2 linked regions of the Homo sapiens genome follow. The protein of the gene in region 1 interacts with the protein of each later gene in a pairwise test. Each region holds a gene or a part of one and is shown in the gene's direction. Other genes may lie near its edges.

The links. Proteins that work in one complex are often made in the same cells at the same time.
Region 2: the proteins of NBPF19 (region 1) and CHRD interact in a two-hybrid assay, tested with the Homo sapiens proteins (one large-scale study listed by BioGRID).

What each region holds. Positions count from the first base shown.
Region 1 is NC_000001.11:149,476,837-149,482,298, forward strand, and holds part of NBPF19 (NBPF family member NBPF19), read left to right. Parts: intron 1-1,108; coding exon 1,109-1,211; intron 1,212-2,043; coding exon 2,044-2,258; intron 2,259-3,305; coding exon 3,306-3,378; intron 3,379-3,842; coding exon 3,843-4,048; intron 4,049-5,338; coding exon 5,339-5,390; intron 5,391-5,462.
Region 2 is NC_000003.12:184,386,554-184,391,033, forward strand, and holds the end of CHRD (chordin isoform 1 precursor), read left to right. Parts: coding exon 1-202; intron 203-291; coding exon 292-385; intron 386-497; coding exon 498-554; intron 555-820; coding exon 821-924; intron 925-1,377; coding exon 1,378-1,480; intron 1,481-2,033; coding exon 2,034-2,188; intron 2,189-2,339; coding exon 2,340-2,442; intron 2,443-2,813; coding exon 2,814-2,869; 3' UTR 2,870-3,276; downstream 3,277-4,480. UniProt on the Homo sapiens protein: Dorsalizing factor. Key developmental protein that dorsalizes early vertebrate embryonic tissues by binding to ventralizing TGF-beta family bone morphogenetic proteins (BMPs) and sequestering them in latent complexes.

The sequences.
Region 1 (5,462 bases):
AGGCAGAAGAATCCTTTGAACCCAGCAGGCAGATGTTGCAGTGAGCCAAGATTGCACTATTGCACTCCAGCATGGGTGACGGGGCAAGACTCGTCAAAAAACAAACAAACAAAAAGATAAATAAATCAAAAATAAAAATAAAAAGCAGAGAGTACCTTGGTGAGAGTGAAGTCCTGCTTCCTGGTGCACAGGCTCTTGTTCCTAAAGAGGAAAGATCACACCGGAGAATGTGTGGAAGCAGCAGTGCAGTGTGCAAAGCAGGGACCCTCAGCCTGTCTCCTGGGCTCCATCCAAGTTGCTTGTCTTGTCTGTCCCTCAGTTTCCTCATCTGTTCAGAGGGTACTACAATAATACCTACCTCTGTAAATTGCTGCAATGAATTACATGAGGTATTTCCTGTCAATCTCCTTGAACATTAATTGGCACAGTGGAAACACTATCTATTAGTTCTTCATTCTGATGTTTCTAAATTAACACAAACTAATGCTGTTTCTAAATTAACACAACTAATCTAAATCTTAATGCTGCCTCTCATACTAATAAAGTATTTGGGCATATTTCCTTCATGGCCTTATTGTCTTATATCTCACACTTTATGCTTCAGATATGATTCTTAAAACCATATCTGAATATTGATTTAAAAATGAAATATTTTTAAAGTCCTTGACATATTTGTCCTTGAAATACCCAGTAAAAGGGAAACCATCAGTCCCATAGTCCTAGGGGCCTTCCCGACTGTACAAGAAATCACTACTTCATGCCCCAGTGCAGTGTTTTAGAGGAGAGGCTGCAAGACTTGGGAAAGTGGCCCCGCATTCAGAGTCAGACCTCAGGGGCTGTGAGTTCTGACTCCACTTCGTTGTGGTTGAATCATCTTGTCAACTTCCTTGATGCGCCCTTGAGTTTCTCTTTCTTCGTCTTTAAATTTTGGAGGATCAGATGCCAGAAAGTCAGGAGACTGAAGAATAAAGATGTGGAAATCCCTGTCTAGACCCTGGTACTGGGGAGAGTTTTGTCCTTGGGATGGACCTGGCTCCTGCCCTGTAGGCAGTGACCACAGCAGCATGTCCAGCCTTCCACTGAGGCAGGCGTGTCTGTCTTTTCTCAGAGTATGAAGAGTGTAAAGACCTCATAAAATTTATGCTGAGGAATGAGCGACAGTTCAAGGAGGAGAAGCTTGCAGAGCAGCTGAAGCAAGCTGAGGAGCTCAGGTGAGGGGACCCCGTGGGGGGAGGGCAGGCGGGTAGGTGTGTAGATCTCTGAAGTACAGCAGCTCGGCGGGGAGAAATAAGAACGAAGCTGGGCCAGGGGAAGGGCAGAAATTGCCATGACAGGCTCATGACACACAAATATTTATCAGTGAACAAGGATAATAATAAGTTCTGTGTTGCAGTTGTTTCTTAGAGCCTTGTTTTCTCTTTTTCAAACAAGTAATTGTTGAGGTGAAATTTACATAACACAAAATTCACCAAAGGAGTGGGAACCACCCAGCAGCATTCAGTATAATCAAAATGGTGTGCTATCACCACCCCACTTACCCTTAGTGAGAATCACCTCCTGACTGACTGCGTCTTCTCATTCTTTCACTCAATCAATGTTGCCTTCTTGACCCTGTCCTTCTTTTCTTCTTTCATCTTTTCAATTCGCCCCATCTGCACCTGGCCTCATTTCTGTACATGGCTTTGTATTTAGTGGCCGCAAGATGCACTATGTGTATTTTCACATGGAAATGTCCATGGCCAGAGTGAGGAACTGAAAGGATGTCTTTTTGAAACGGAATTAGGAAGACACCTACTTTTGTTTACAGAAGAGAAAGATGAATGGAACATCATCGAGGATCTTGCAGGAGCCCTCTCTGATAGAGGGAAAGCCTGTAGACCATTTTCTATTCTTCCTCTTGGCCACAGTCATTCCTTTCAACATGTGCTGACCTTCTGCTTGGAGGTCTCCTTGAGGACATTGTCTCAGAAGTCTCTGTTGCAATATTTGAACGGATCACTCAACCCTTTCTACTCTTAAATTTTCTCTACCGTCTCACCTTAGGCAATATAAAGTCCTGTTTCACTCTCAGGAACGAGAGCTGACCCAGTTAAGGGAGAAGTTACGGGAAGGGAGAGATGCCTCCCGCTCATTGAATGAGCATCTCCAGGCCCTCCTCACTCCGGATGAGCCGGACAAGTCCCAGGGGCAGGACCTCCAAGAACAGCTGGCTGAGGGGTGTAGACTGGCACAGCACCTTGTCCAAAAGCTCAGCCCAGGTAAGGTGGCCATAGGCCCTGATGACCCAAAACCCCAGGCTTATGAGAGGCTCCAGACCTCCATACTTTCACAATGACAGTTATATCAGTGGGGTTTTTTTCTACTACACCTATGTGGCCATGACATGATCAGGACTTCCTGGGTAAGAACAGAGATGGGAAACCCATGGGTTTGGAGGTCACAGTATTGCAAGTGTCCCTCCTTCCTTGATGGAAGGTGGTCTTTGGAGCAAGAGGCAGCATCTATCTAGTTTTAAAGGACAGGAAGGAGGCTGTGATGGAAGGGCGCTTGTTGGAGTGAAAAGAGCTCTGGGCTAAGAATGAAGGTTCCCAGGCTGTATTTTTGGCAGTGTTCTTAGTAAGTGTCAGTGAGTGATTTATCTTTTCAGAGTTTCTCTCTCTCCATCTGCAAAGGCAGACAAATTGTCTCTTGCAAGGGTCTGAAGCATCCAAATATGGGAACACTTACGAATGCTTTTCAAAATGAGATGAAGCCCCTCTCCATGTGGTGTTGGAGAAGGCACTTGATGTGGGGGCATTTGGTGGTAGGAAGTGCTTCAGACTGGAGCACTCCCCATGGATAGAATGTCCCTGAATAACACAGCAGAAGCCACATGGAGGGCCTGTGCAGTCTCATGACGCATAGAGGACTGTGGGACAAGTTTGTCCTCTCCTAAGAGAAAGAATGAGGTTTGAAATGCAAACCGTGACAGGACACCAAGCCTGTGCCTGGGAATCAGATCTGGCAGGATGGGGGAGACAGCTGCCAACGTCCAGAGAGAGGCTGCACAAGCCTCCAGTGATATGGGAAGCAAAAGGTCTTTTCAATATTTGGCCACATCTTGATGGTGGCCCTCCAGATCAGAAATGCATTGCCTGATGGATCAGGAAACCATGGCAGGGCATTCTGTTAAAGATAAAACATGAGAGTTTTCAGTTGAACGGTGACCCATGCCTAGATGTTCATGTCTCTGTTGCACATTGGGCTGACTGTGCTTGCAGACTGTGAAGTGGGAAATATCTGAACGAACACTTCTGTATTTACAGAAAATGACAACGATGACGATGAAGATGTTCAAGTTGAGGTGGCTGAGAAAGTGCAGAAATCGTCTGCCCCCAGGTAACACTGAATACTCAGGAACAATTAATGGATGGTAACATATGAGGAATATCTAGGAGGCACACCCTCTCTGGCATCTATGATGGGCCAAAAACCCGCATTCGCTTGGCCACAGTATGTGAAATATAATCCAGCTTAGACACAGGGTGCGGTAGCTGTCATGTTTCTCTATGTGTGCTGAGTGTCATGTCTGCACCTTACAGGGATAGCTGAGTCTTCATCCTCCTCAGCTCCTATCTGTCCAGTGCAATGAACAGCAGCTGCTCTCTTCCTCTCTGGTTCCCATGGCAGCCATGCTCTGTTGCAGAGAGAACAGGATTGCATGTTCCCTCTTAATGGGAACCTCCATTTTGCTTTCTGGGACCACTCTCTTAATGCCGCCTGTCAAAACCAGCTAGGACTCCCTGGGGTCCAATCCCTCTGTGTTTAATCTTCTGTCATCTCTGTCCCACCTGGCTCATCAGGGAGATGCAGAAGGCTGAAGAAAAGGAAGTCCCTGAGGACTCACTGGAGGAATGTGCCATCACTTATTCAAATAGCCATGGCCCTTATGACTCCAACCAGCCACATAGGAAAACCAAAATCACATTTGAGGAAGACAAAGTCGACTCAACTCTCATTGGCTCATCCTCTCATGTTGAATGGGAGGATGCTGTACACATTATTCCAGGTAGCCTCTGTTTTCCTTGTGTCTCATACCTCTCTCTAGGCTGAGAAAGATAAACTCTGAAGACAGGCTCTATAAACACAAATTCATTTGAATAAAAAACTGTGATGGGTTTCTAAACAGATATCAGGGAGTTTTTTTGTCCTTCTCAGCTAATGTCATGACTTTGTCTGCCAGTCCCCAGTATCAAGTTACTCAACCCCAGGCAAGTGTGACAATCTCATAGTCACCTGAGTGCAGGAGGTGCACAGGCAGTATCTGTCAGGCCTCCTATCTTCGATTCAGTATCTCTTGTCATCTGTGATTAAGTCATCTGTCCCTGAACAATGTCCATGGAGTTTCTATGCCTGTTTAAGGAAGCTGGCAGCCTTGCCTTTGTATTTGGAAATATTGTTCCCCAGGCTTCACTGCTCTCAGCTTTCATCTGGATCTCCTTTAAGTCAGCTTGCTTAGCTGCACAGTCACCCTGAAATCAGGACGGAAACTTTTCTTCTTTACTTTGCTGATATATTTCCATAAAGCAAGGCTGGACCCTGGTTCTCCACCCTGTCAATGCAATGGCTGATCCAATGTTTCTTTGTAGCATCGTGGATTTTTTTTTTTTTTTTTTTTTTTTTGCAATGGAGTCTTGCTCTGTCACCCAGGCTGGAGTGCAGTGGCACCATCTTGGCTTGGTGCAACCTCTGCCTCCCAGATTCAAGTGATTCTCCTGCCTCAGCCTCCTGAGTTGCTGGGACCACAGGTGCACAACATCACATCTGGCTAATTTTTGTATTTTTAGTAGAGACAGGGTTTCCCCATATTGGCCAGGGTAGTCCTGAACTCATGACCTCAAATGATTCACCTGTCTTGGCCTCCCAAATCACAGATTCTTTTTAAAGCAAGAGTTGTTAAAATTTATCTATCAGTCGTGTTTCATGTATAGATGCCTCTAAACATTTAATGTCCATGTTACCTGGTGATATAAGTCCGTATCGCAGCAACACTCTTAGAAAATTGTTTGACCAATTTTTGGAGATTTTTTTGGGGAAAAAATTTTGTTTAACTTTGACTCAGGCAGGGAATATGGCATTATGGTCTACACGTAGAGGGAGATTTTGGCCTGTGGGTCTGGAAAGCAGGGTCATCTAATTCTCACCAAAGTTAATCTAGGACACCCTAGAATATTCCTGTCAGAATCCTTATTCTTGCACTGAGAATAGTTATGTCCTTGTGCTATGACTGGACAGTGATTTGTTCATATGTGAAGTATGAATTGCTTAATGTGACCTGCTTCTCTGAATTTATTTACAGAAAATGAAAGTGATGATGAGGAAGAGGAAGAAAAAGGGCCAGTGTCTCCCAGGTAATGTTGTGGAATTGTTGGCTGTTAATTCAGTAGTGACATCTGGAGATTGTAGATTTAGGGAAAATGAGG
Region 2 (4,480 bases), on another chromosome or scaffold:
GGTGCGGGCGCTGGGGGCTCCGGATACAGCCTCTGCTGCGCCGCCTGTGGTGCCTGGTCTCCCGGCCCTAGCGCCCGCCAAACCTGGTGGTCCTGGGCGGCCCCGAGACCCCAACACATGCTTCTTCGAGGGGCAGCAGCGCCCCCACGGGGCTCGCTGGGCGCCCAACTACGACCCGCTCTGCTCACTCTGCACCTGCCAGGTAGGAGGTCCTGGAAGGGCACACTGGGTCCTGGGATCTGGAGCAAGGGGCCTGGACACTCCCGTCAATGCCTCTGCTCCTCTCTGCAGAGACGAACGGTGATCTGTGACCCGGTGGTGTGCCCACCGCCCAGCTGCCCACACCCGGTGCAGGCTCCCGACCAGTGCTGCCCTGTTTGCCCTGGTGAGTTCCCCGCAGGGGAGTGGAGGGAGGAGTTGGCCCAGTGCGGACAGGTCCTTTGGGGAGGGAATGAGGGTGGTCACTCTCTGCTTTCACCATTTCTTTGGCTCCACAGAGAAACAAGATGTCAGAGACTTGCCAGGGCTGCCAAGGAGCCGGGACCCAGGAGAGGGTGAGCTGGAAGGGTGCGTGCAGGGTGGGAGGCCCCAGAGGAGCCATTAGGTTGAACCAGGAGGGGGACAAGAAGGGGAGAGTATATAGGGGGTGGCCTGAGGGGCACAGATTCCAAGTGATGCCTGACAGGACTCATTAGTGTTACTGGCCCCCAGGTGGGCCCTTGGCTTAGGCTCGTGTGGGGGTGGCCTGAGGCTCAAGCCTTGGTTGTGGGCCCAGCTGATGAGCTCATACTAATGGCTGCTGGGCCCTGTTCCCCACCAGGCTGCTATTTTGATGGTGACCGGAGCTGGCGGGCAGCGGGTACGCGGTGGCACCCCGTTGTGCCCCCCTTTGGCTTAATTAAGTGTGCTGTCTGCACCTGCAAGGTATGGCCACCCAATCTTCTCTGGTGCCATAACCCAGCGGGGTCTGCAGAGATGGGGAGGGGCTGCCAGGTGAGGAAGGCCCGTCCTTGGTGAGGAGGGCTCAAGAATCAAAACGATATGAGAAAAGGCCCTTGCGCTCTGAGAGTCGGCTTCCTGTGGGAAAATGAACAGGGCTGACCTGGGTGTGGATTCTGGCTCTGCCAGCTAACTAGTGCCAGTGACCCTAGGCACCTTCTGTCCCTGAGCCTCACTTTCCTCTCCTGTAAGCAGATATGATGGCACCTACCTTGCAGGGTTCTGATGAGGAGCTGAGTTTAGGTCTATAAAGCCAGTCCGGGCCTCTGAGTAAAAGGCCACAGAGAGACTGCATTTGAGGTGTGGAATAGGAGAGGGAGTGGGCAGGAGGCTTATGTGCCCCCTGCCTGACACTCCTTGCTCAATGGATCCCTACAGGGGGGCACTGGAGAGGTGCACTGTGAGAAGGTGCAGTGTCCCCGGCTGGCCTGTGCCCAGCCTGTGCGTGTCAACCCCACCGACTGCTGCAAACAGTGTCCAGGTGAGAGAGGTGGCTGAGCACTGAGGCCTCACCTTTGGGTTGAGGCAGGCTTTGTCCTGGGTGAGGGGAAGGGTGCTCAGTTAATTGAGCATTATACTGAGCACTGCTCTGTGCCTAGCCTGGAGCCAGGACTCTAAATGCAGTGGAAAGAATGTGATATACTAGTGGGGTATGATGGGTTCTGGTTCCTGCTCCATCCATCCGTCCATCCATCCATCCATCCATCCATCCATCCATCCATCCATCCATCCGTCCATTCATCTATCTATCCACCCATACAACCATCCACCCATTGATGCATCCATCCATGCATCCATCCATCCCTCCATCCATCCACCCATCCACCCATTGATGCATCCATCCATCCATCCATCCATCCATCCATCCATCCATCCATCCGTCCCTTCATCCATCCATTCATCTGCCCACCCACCCATCCAAATTTATCACCTACTAAGTGCCAGAAACTGCAACGTGCTGGGTATTCAAAGAGAATACTCATAAAACCTTGTTGGTCCTCCTGGGCTGATCCTTTCTCTTTCCCTCTCAACAGTGGGGTCGGGGGCCCACCCCCAGCTGGGGGACCCCATGCAGGCTGATGGGCCCCGGGGCTGCCGTTTTGCTGGGCAGTGGTTCCCAGAGAGTCAGAGCTGGCACCCCTCAGTGCCCCCTTTTGGAGAGATGAGCTGTATCACCTGCAGATGTGGGGTAAGTGGGGAGCAGAGGCTTGTGTGAGGTGGGTACTGGGAGCCTGGTCTGGAGTAGGGAGACCTTCCCAGGGAGGTCCCTGAAGAAGCTGAAGGTCACTGTGTCCCAGTGCCTCTGGGGGACACTCAGTGTCTGCTCTGTCTTGTACCAGGCAGGGGTGCCTCACTGTGAGCGGGATGACTGTTCACTGCCACTGTCCTGTGGCTCGGGGAAGGAGAGTCGATGCTGTTCCCGCTGCACGGCCCACCGGCGGCGTAAGTGAGGGAGTCCAGGGTCAGCAGCTGTGAGTGGAGGGCTCACCTGCCTGTGGGACTCCTGATCAGGGAAGGGAGCACTCACTGTGTGCAGGAACAGTGCAGCCTGCCTCACAAGTGCCATTCCAATCCACCCTCACAGCAACCTGGTGGAATTGTTATTTATGACCTTTTCTTTACAAATGAGATTTCTGAAGCTCAGAGAAATTAAGCAACGAGATGAAGGTCACCCAGCTGTGTGCACTGACCTGTTTAGAAAATACTGGCCTTTCTGGGACCAAGGCAGGGATGCTTTGCCCTGCCCTCTATGCCTCTCTGTGCCTCTCCACTCCCTCTCCCCTCCTCCAACATTCCCTCCCTTCTGTCTCCAGCAGCCCCAGAGACCAGAACTGATCCAGAGCTGGAGAAAGAAGCCGAAGGCTCTTAGGGAGCAGCCAGAGGGCCAAGTGACCAAGAGGATGGGGCCTGAGCTGGGGAAGGGGTGGCATCGAGGACCTTCTTGCATTCTCCTGTGGGAAGCCCAGTGCCTTTGCTCCTCTGTCCTGCCTCTACTCCCACCCCCACTACCTCTGGGAACCACAGCTCCACAAGGGGGAGAGGCAGCTGGGCCAGACCGAGGTCACAGCCACTCCAAGTCCTGCCCTGCCACCCTCGGCCTCTGTCCTGGAAGCCCCACCCCTTTCCTCCTGTACATAATGTCACTGGCTTGTTGGGATTTTTAATTTATCTTCACTCAGCACCAAGGGCCCCCGACACTCCACTCCTGCTGCCCCTGAGCTGAGCAGAGTCATTATTGGAGAGTTTTGTATTTATTAAAACATTTCTTTTTCAGTCTTTGGGCATGAGGTTGGCTCTTTGTGGCCAGGAACCTGAGTGGGGCCTGGTGGAGAAGGGGCAGAGAGTAGGAGGTGAGAGAGAGGAGCTCTGACACTTGGGGAGCTGAAAGAGACCTGGAGAGGCAGAGGATAGCGTGGCAGTTGGCTGGCATGCCTGGGTTCCGCAGAGGGGCTGGGGATGGTTCTTGAGATGGTCTAGAGACTCAAGAATTTAGGGAAGTAGAAGCAGGATTTTGACTCAAGTTTAGTTTCCCACATCGCTGGCCTGTTTGCTGACTTCATGTTTGAAGTTGCTCCAGAGAGAGAATCAAAGGTGTCACCAGCCCCTCTCTCCCTCCTTCCCTTCCCTTCCCTTTCTTTCCCTCCCCTCCCCTCCCCTCCCCTCCCCTCCCCTCCCCTCCCCTTCCCTTCACTCTCCCTTCCCTCTCCCTTCCCTTCCCTTCTCCTTCGTTCACAGCAATGGGGTCTTGCTATGTTGCCCAGGCTGGTCTTGAACTCCTGGCCTCAAGTGATCCTCCTGCCTTGGCCTTCCAAAGTGTTGGGATTACAGGCATGAGCCACCACACCCAGCCCAGCCTCTACCTTCTTTGTCTAAAGTGAGGCAAACACTTTTCTGTTTTTTTCCTGGAAACTCGTGTTCTGGACCAGTTCTGGGGCAAACTGGGGTCAGAGTGGATTGGAATCAGCTCTGATCCAGCTTTTGGCTGTGCTTACCTTGAGACCAAATCATGTAGAGAATAAGACAAGACCCTCCTGCCCTGTTACCCTCTTCTCTCTCCCCTCCCTCATTCCTACCATCAAGACCCAGGCATTTTGACAAGCTCTAGGAAATGAGGGTATCAGAACAGAAATCTAACAAATGTATGTAGCTGCAGATCCATCTTTCATATAAACAATGTGGAGTCAAATGAATCTGGGATTTTATGATCTGGTAGGGCAGGGGAAAGGGAAATCATAGCTTGCTTATGGAGTGTTAGGCATGCTGTATGTGGTTAAGAAGTTATTGTCTTAGCCCATTGAAGCATCGAGTTCCAGTTCTGCTGTTAACTAGCTGAGTTATTTAACTTTCACAAACCCCCATTTCCCTTTTATAAAACACATGATATCCCCCTCACAGGATTCAATCAGAACACGTGCATTACACAAGCTCAGGGCCTGGCACGTATTCGCTGCAAAAGGCACTCTCCCCGAGGTGGGATTTG